Linked DNA regions of Homo sapiens. The protein of the gene in region 1 purifies or fractionates together with the protein of each later gene. This does not show direct contact. Each region holds a gene or a part of one and is shown in the gene's direction. Other genes may lie near its edges. The genes, in order: PASD1 and BMAL1.

Region 1 (4,314 bases):
CTGATTGGTCCATTTTACAGAGAGCCGATTGGTCCATTTTGACAGGGTGCTGATTGGTGCGTTTACAATCCCTGAGCTAGACACAGAGTGCTGATTGGGGTATTTACAAACCTTGAGCTAGATACAGAGTACGGATTGGTGCATTTACAATCTCAGCTAGACATAAAGGTTCTCCAAGTCCCCACCAGATTAACTAGATACAGAGTGCCGATTGGTGCATTCACAAATCCTGAGCTAGACACAGGGTGCTGATTGGTGTGTTCACAAACCTTGAGCTAGATACAGAGTGCTGATTGGTGTATTTACAATCCCTTAGCTAGACATAAAGATTCTCCAAGTCCCCACCAGACTCAGGAGCCCAGCTGGCTTCACCCAGTGGATCCCACAGGGGGCCGCAGGTGGAGCTGCCTGCCAGTTCCGCCCAGTGCGCCTGCACTCCTCAGCCCTTGGGCAGTCGATGGGACTGGGCACCCTGGAGCAGGAAGCGGCACTCCTCCGCAAGGCTCCTGCGCACAGGAGCCGACGGCCGGGGCAGGGGGAGCAGGCGGGGGGGCGGGGAGTGGGGCTGGGGTGAGGGGGCAGCGGGGGGGGCGGGGGGTGGGGGGGCGGGGGGCGGGGGGTCGGGGGTCGGGGGGGCGGGGGGCGGGGGGGGCGGGGGGGCGGGGGGTGTCGGTGGTCGGGGGGGGGCGGGGGGGGTGGAGGCTCGGGCATGGCGGTCTGCAGGTCCCAAGCCCTGCCCCACAGGGAGGCAGCTAAGGCCTGGCAAGAAATGGAGCACAGCAGCTGCTGGCCCAGGTGCTAAGCCCTTCACTGCCCGGGCCTTGCGGGCCCACCGGGCCACTCCGAGTGCAGGCCCGCTGAGCCCACGTCCACCCGGAACTTGCGCTGGCCCGCAAGCGCCGCACGCAGCCCCAGTTGCCACCGGTGCCTCTCCCTCCACACCTTCCCACAAGCTGAGGGAACCGGCTCTGGCCTTGGCCAGCCCAGAAAGGGGCTCCCACAGTGCAGCGGTGGGCTGAAGGGCTCCTCAAGCGCGGCCAGAGTGGGCGCCAAGGCCGAGGAGGTGCGGAGTGCGAGGGACGGCTGCGAGGGTTGCCAGCTCGCTGTCACCTCTCAGTTCCACAATAGAGCCATGATTGGACTCAAAAAGACCCCTCTTTTCTGGGATCCATACATTTTCTGGGCTCCATTAGGTCCTGCTTAGGTAGTGCTCAGGGGTCCAGGGAGGGTGGAGAGCCTGTATTGGGGTGGAACCCTTTGACTCGACAAGCTAAGGGCTACGTTGAAGTGGCTTATCTGCACTCCTAGTTCCAGAGACAGTAGTTATCTCGGGCCCCAACATCGCGAGGTCTAGGGAAAAATGCTACCACTCCTCCCCCCTACTTCCGCTGCCACGCTGCCTCCATGCCTGCCTCCCCTCTCTGCCACGCCCCCACCACGCGCTTTGCACTCTGGGGCCCACGCACTTCCCTGAAGAGTCTAGAAGCTGCTCCTCATTTCCAGACTTTCCGGGCGCCCACCAGGCTCCCGGGCTCTCACCGGAGACCACAGGGAGGAGCTTCAAGGTACCCCAAGTCCCTGCGGCCTCCAGCAGTGAAGAGTTCCACAAGGGTGAGTGAAGTCCGTTAATGAAAGCTACTGCAAAGTAAAATGCCTTGGGGTGGCGGCGGGGAGCCAGCCCCTTTGTCCCTCGGTGGCTGAGGAGCCCAAGCTACTCCATCAGAGACATTCCCTGCAGGACCCTCGTTTTCCTGGTCATCCTGGGAAGGTTGGTTGGGATGAGGCAGAAGGAGAGGGGTGGCAGCGGGTAGCTGGGGGTTACACGAGGAAGACCCCCACATTCTGAACCTCCTCCTGCATTGGGCACCATCGTAGGTGCACCATAGGAGGCACCCATTGATTTTTCTTTGGACATTTCGAGAAATTGAAGCAGAGTTGGGAAGAATGGAAAGCTTGCGGTGTCGCGAATAGGCCGGTCTGAGCGGGCGGTTCGGGTGAGAACGCCAGGCTCTGTCCGGCAGGTCTGGGGCGCGTCTCCATTACCACAGTCGGGGACGGTGTGCTGGGGTGGGCGCGTATATCGAGAGGTTTGCCTGGTTTTCAGCAGATTGAGCAGTTTGTACACGTGAAATCTCAGACTTCAGAATTTTCAGGGCAGTAGCGGCTTTTCAAAGGATCTGCTTGAAGTTTTTGTTGTCCTTTGGGTTTGTTTTTTGCTTTTTTGGATTTCAAATGATGAGGAGTTTATGTCAGGATGTGTATTTGGGCACACTTACACGGAGAGCACAGAAGTTGTGGCTACCTTAGAAAATGTGTTTTTTCAAAATGGAGTCAGATTAGCGTGAAAGTGCCAGCAGCCATGTATCTGAAGACCGATAATGGAGGCGAACGTCGGTGCGGTGGCAGGCATCTTAGTCTCAGCTACTGGTTACGGCTGAGTTTGAGACCAGCTAGGGCGGACTTAGCGAGACCTGTTCTCTACAAAAATTAAAAAAAAAAAAAAAATTAGCTGGGCGTGTGGTGCCCAACTAGTCAGGAGGCTGAGGTGGGAGGGATCGCTTGAGCCTGGGAGTTCGAGGTTGCAGTGAGTCATGAATGAACCACGGCACCCCAGCCTGAACAACAGAGCAAGACCCTGTATTTTCAATCAAAACTTCCTTCAAAAATTACAACTCATAAGACAATAATTTATCAGTTACTCATCCATCTTAAGGGAACATAACTTTCCAATGTATAAAATCAAGAATGTAAATTAATCTACCCTGGATTATGTAATATGCATGCCATACACCACACAATATGCCAGGAAAGGCAGGTGGCAAAGTCATGCTCCAAAAGAGATCCAGGAACAGAATCAGGCATCCTGGTTTTTTTGAGGTATCCCTACTGACTGGCTGTGCTTTTCTCTAACCTTAGTTCTTTCAGTAAGTTAAGCTGTATCTAAAGTAGATTTGTTGTGCTTATTTCTCTGCCAGTTCTAGAACAGAGAGTACTGAGGGGTAAAGACACTCAGGCAGCAAAAGAAAATCCTTTCCACCAAACTAAAGAGAATGGGCAGAAAGCATTGGACTCATGACTTTGAAAGTATTCAGGCCAATGTAGCCAGTAGATGCCCTCCAATCTGTCAGTACTTACTTAGAGAGACATCTGTCTTTGAGATTAGCCTAGCACTTCCTTAGGAGAGTTGGCAGTGATGGAGGGAGGATGTGGGGGCGGGAACTGGACCTTTCTTCCATCAGCAAAGAACAGGCGTGAGGGCTGTTCCTCCTTTTCTTTTCCCAGCAAGTCAGGAGCCAGTGGGAAGTGGCTTTCTTTTTTCTTTTTCCTTACTTTTTTTTTTTTTTTTTTTGAGACGGAGTCTCGCTCTCAACCAGGCTGGAGTGCAGTGGCGTGATCTCGGCTCACTGCAAGCTCCACCTGCCAGGTTCACGCCATTCTCCTGCCTCAGCCTGCCAAGTAGCTGGGACTATAGGCGCCCGCTACCATGCCCGGCTAATTTTTTTGTATTTTTAGTAGAGACGGGGTTTCACCATGTTAGCCAGGATGGTCTCGATCTCCTGACCTGGTGATCCGCCCGCCTTCGCCTCCCAAAGTGCTGGGATTGCAGGCATGAGCCACCGCGCCCAGCCAGAAGTGGCTTTCTAATGGCTGGCCTTTATGGGCAGATTTCTTTGCAAAGTAATTCACAGATACCCAGTTTCTTGGGTAATAAGAATTAGACTAGAAATCCTCCTACTCTTAACTGAAAGTTGATAGGGTTGATAAGGTAATTAGGATTATGGGGAGAGCATTTGGTTGTTGGTAGTAAAACGAAAATTTGTGATAAAAGTGTAGTTTAACTCTCCTGGTTTTGGTTTCAACATTTCATTCAACACATATTCAGAAGTTCTGTTAGAGGCACGTTTTGAGCTAAGATACAGGGCAAAGCAACTGAGAATAAAGATGCAGCTTTTAGGGAGTCCATAGGCTAGTGGAGCAGAGAAACGTGCAAACAAATTATTATATCCCATTATTTGCTTTGAGCTATAATATGTGAATAAGAAACCCAGACACTGGACTTCAAAGAGAAGGGAGTGATCAATTTACCCTGGGTTAGGGCCTCAGCCCATCTTCCCCAAAGAGGAGGATTTAGATTGGGTTTTAAGTTATGAGATTAATAACTCTGGAAGGAGAAGGCAGAGGGAGACACACATACTAACAAAATGATGGAGGAGCAAAAATGCCTAGCATTTTCCGAAGCAGGAGGTGACCAGGTGAGGGTGGCTATCCTTGTGACCTTTGAAAGAGGAGGGATCAGTTTGAGGAGTTGCCTTT
Region 2 (3,810 bases), on another chromosome or scaffold:
TGGTTCTCAACCCAGGGAAATTTTTTCCCCCAGGCAATATTTTGCAATGTCAGGAGACATTTTTGGTCTTCACAACTGGGTGGGAGGTTGCTACTTAAACATCCTGTGGATAGAGACCAGGGATGCTGCTTGTTAAACATCCTACAGTAAACAGGACAGTTCCCTCCTCCCCACCCAACAAAGAATTATCCAATCCAAAATGTTAGTAGTGCCTAGATTAAGAAATCCTGCCTTAAATAAAGAAGCTAAACCAAAATAGCCCAGCGCTAAAGAGAATTCTTGAGAAGACTTAACTTTCTTATGGCTCAAGGAGCTTCTCAGTGCGGATAGATGTACCTTTACTTTACAGGAATGCAGGAGTAGAGCTGTGAACTATCAGAGTGATCTGGACCTTAACAAAACATTCACTTTTTTTCAATCAAAGAGCTGCCCAGGATTAGTACTAGAAACCAAGCAGATCAGCTAGTTATTACTAGCTGTCTTGGGAGAGACTTCCTTTCCATATGAAAGAGAAGGAGCTTAGAAGCAGTCCACCTGGGTCTGAGTCCTGGGCCTGTCTCTCTACCTGGCTATGCTGAGACTTACTTAACCTCTTGCTCTCTGTTGATTTAAACCATAAAAAGAAAGCACTATTTCCCAAGAATTGTGTTAGGATTGTGAGGGCACTCAGGAAAGTTCCAGGAACACAGCCTGACATATAGTGAGTGCTTAAAAATTAATTAAATCTGTCTTTAAGAGCAGTCGAGAGGGAAGCAGTTATCATAAGTCTGTCCAAATTTGGGGAATAGAGAAGGTGGTAACCAGATTCTTCAGAACGAAACTTAATGTAACATAAGAAAAGGAAGAAAACACTGCTGCCGCTGGATTCTCTCAGGAGAATTAGAGGCTGGCCTGTTTTCCAATTGGCCATAAAGGGGCTGTTATCCCCCTATAGGTAACACAGCTCTTTTCCAACCCCACAGGATTAGTGGGTGTGACTTCTGCATCAGGAAGGAGACATGAGGGTAGTGTGCAGTGTAATCAGGTTCAAACCCTATACTTTGCATTTGCATACCCTGTATTTTGCTTGAGACCATCCAAGAACAGTATCAAACAGTCCTTGACCTCAAGAATTTTAAAATCTTTTATAAGTCTATTTTCTTTATGATAACAGGAAAAAGGGAGGGTGCATGGGCCAAAGCAAGCAAAAGAGGAAAGATTTGAACTTGGCCTTAGCCAGGGTTTGCAATAAGAGTGGATGTTCCCTCTAGAAAAGCCAGGGCTATTCTTGAGTGGGCATGTGAGTGGCAAATTCAGGGTCAAGAAACAAGCTACCTAACTGGGCAGGCTTTGTGTAGGAAGGAGACACAGAGCTATGATAGGCGATTAAGAAACACAAGAAATGATACTGTGCAGTTTGGAAGAAACCTGTAAGACCCCATTTGTTGTAGGATGCTGAACAAGCATCCAAAGTCTTGTGTTACGCTTTGTGGAAGTTGCATTGGAATAGGGAGAGATGAAGGTGGGCATGTTTGACAACTCAGGAATGAGGCCTTATCCTACAGAGATGACACTGCCAAAAGAGAAATCAATCATCTAAGGTCTAGCGTTTGAAGATGAAATCAGGAATGATGAAACAGCAATTCCAAGATGAGAAACCTGGGAAAATAGTGGTTTCATAGACATAAGTAGAGAAAGGTGGGGGACACTCAGCAATTTTTCCGTAAGCAATTAGCAGCCGTTTGTGCATGCTGAGAATACATGATATGTAGTTGTAAACTGCCGTTAAGAAGCTTCTAATCCAGAAAGAAAACTTGTTCACTCATAAATCTAGAGAACTAGGCAGTACAAGAACCAAAAGACTTCTGGGTGGTGGAGGAGTGGTCTCTGGGTCACCCAAAAGCTACATTCATCCATGTAGGAGCTGAGAGTCCTGTGGTTACACAACTGCCATCACACTCTCCCTAAACTGTAGCTGCAATGCCAAGTGATGGATTCTTTCCTGAGGTCCTTCAGCCTGACAAGTATTTAGGTGGATTTACAGTTCTAAGTCTTCCCTTCTATAAATCTTCTGAGAGATATGCTAGATAAGAAAGGCCTGGACCCATTTTTCATCAACCACTGCCTTCGAAGGCTGCTTTTCCTGTCACTACTACTAGGCTACCTTTTAGACCCTGGTGCCGTCCATGTCCTAAGAGTATTCACTAGCTAAACAGTGTTTGTGGAGAAGGGGACAAATTGTTTTCTGTGGATCAAAGATGGAGGTTGATCTTAGAAGTTCTCCTCCAATTCACCTGGATTCTGTGAGGAAATAAAACTGGCCACTTACTTGAAATTCACCAACTGAATGCAAACTCCAATCCAAGGGCTTTGTCAGTGAGATGCTTGACTCTAGGGACTGCATTCTAGATCAGGTGCCTGTAGAACAAATCCAGCTTGTCATCTGTTTTTGTAAATAAAGTTTTATTGGAACACAGCCACACCGATTCGTATCTGTGGCTGCTTTCAAGCTGCAGAGGCAGAGTTGAGCATTTGTGACAAGACACCATATGGCCTAGAGAGCCTACTATCTGGCCCCTTACAGAAAAAGCTTGCCAAACCCTAATCTAGATCTTCATCCCCTTTCTCACCTTTACCCCTTAACAAAGCACATACACTCCACTGAAAAAAGAAAAGGCAGTGTAATTCTCTTTTCTGACAGGATAAGAGGGTCATCGCCTTCTAGCTGTGGCTCCAGCCCATTGAACATCACGAGTACGCCTCCCCCTGATGCCTCTTCTCCAGGAGGCAAGAAGGTAAGACTGATGATTCTTAGCCTAAGCTAGAGAACCTCTTGCCCAAGATCTGAAATGTTGGGGGTGGGAGTATGGAATTGCAACTGCGATTGCTGAAACAATTTGGACTACTTCCTCCTTGAAGTAAATGCATCTGTGTGAGGCTGGATACAAAGCATACTGGTAGGGCTAGGGAGGCTTGCTGACATCCTCAGAGGCTTTCTTCCATGTGAGTGGAAGAAGGGAGAAAGAATAAGGAATGGGGAACTGTCAGTTCATTTAATTGAGGGAGCAATTCAAGAGTTCCCATGAGGGAAAGATTATTGAGTACCTCACATAGAAAAGTTTCTCATTTTCTGCCAGGAATTTTCAAGGGAGAAAATATTAGTGTCTAGGGCAGGCAATGGAAACAGCAATGCCACCAGCAGTGCTTTGGAAATCAAGCCATGCTTTATAGCTGCAGAATACTTGGGGATCTGCTGCCTGGGGGTTCCATTGGTGTGACAGCATTGGATCCAAGCAGTGGATCAATCACCAGCCCTCATGAAGAGCTTGCTATAAGACTACACTATAAATAGGTTTAGGAACCAGTCATTTGTTTTCATCTTTGCTGGAGAACTTATAAGCCTAGGCCCATCTTAATCGTAAATTATAAATCTGTTTATATTGCCTGATGCCAGTAGAGCTTAGGACAGTTTAAAGGCCATCATTTTGGACACAATGGCTTCCTTTCCCCATCTCCTAAAACAGAGAGAGAGAATATCAGGAATTTCCATAGGCAGGACTCCTAGGGCACAAACCATCAAAAGCAGGGCAAGGATTTTCAAAACTGAGCTCCTCGGAGGTTTGTTCAGGTTACCAAGAGCTGTGGTGTTACCAGGTGGGATGGGCGTGGGGATAGTTGCTAAGGAGAGAGGGTAAGAGTAGAAATCCTGCTTCTACAAGGGCAGCAATACTTCTTTTTTATACAGGAATCTTCTGCAAACATTTCTATTTGAAAAAGCGTTTTGCTCCCCCCAAAAAAGGTTGAAAGTTAACAAATTAATGGGTAAGACTA

The links.
Region 2: the proteins of PASD1 (region 1) and BMAL1 purify together in Homo sapiens (co-immunoprecipitation; one study listed by IntAct). This does not show direct contact.

Annotation. Positions count from the first base shown.
Region 1 is NC_000023.11:151,562,229-151,566,542, forward strand, and holds the start of PASD1 (circadian clock protein PASD1), read left to right. Parts: upstream 1-1,446; 5' UTR 1,447-1,611; intron 1,612-4,314. UniProt on the Homo sapiens protein: Functions as a suppressor of the biological clock that drives the daily circadian rhythms of cells throughout the body. Acts as a nuclear repressor of the CLOCK-BMAL1 heterodimer-mediated transcriptional activation of the core clock components.
Region 2 is NC_000011.10:13,378,481-13,382,290, forward strand, and holds part of BMAL1 (basic helix-loop-helix ARNT-like protein 1), read left to right. Parts: intron 1-2,680; coding exon 2,681-2,774; intron 2,775-3,810. UniProt on the Homo sapiens protein: Transcriptional activator which forms a core component of the circadian clock.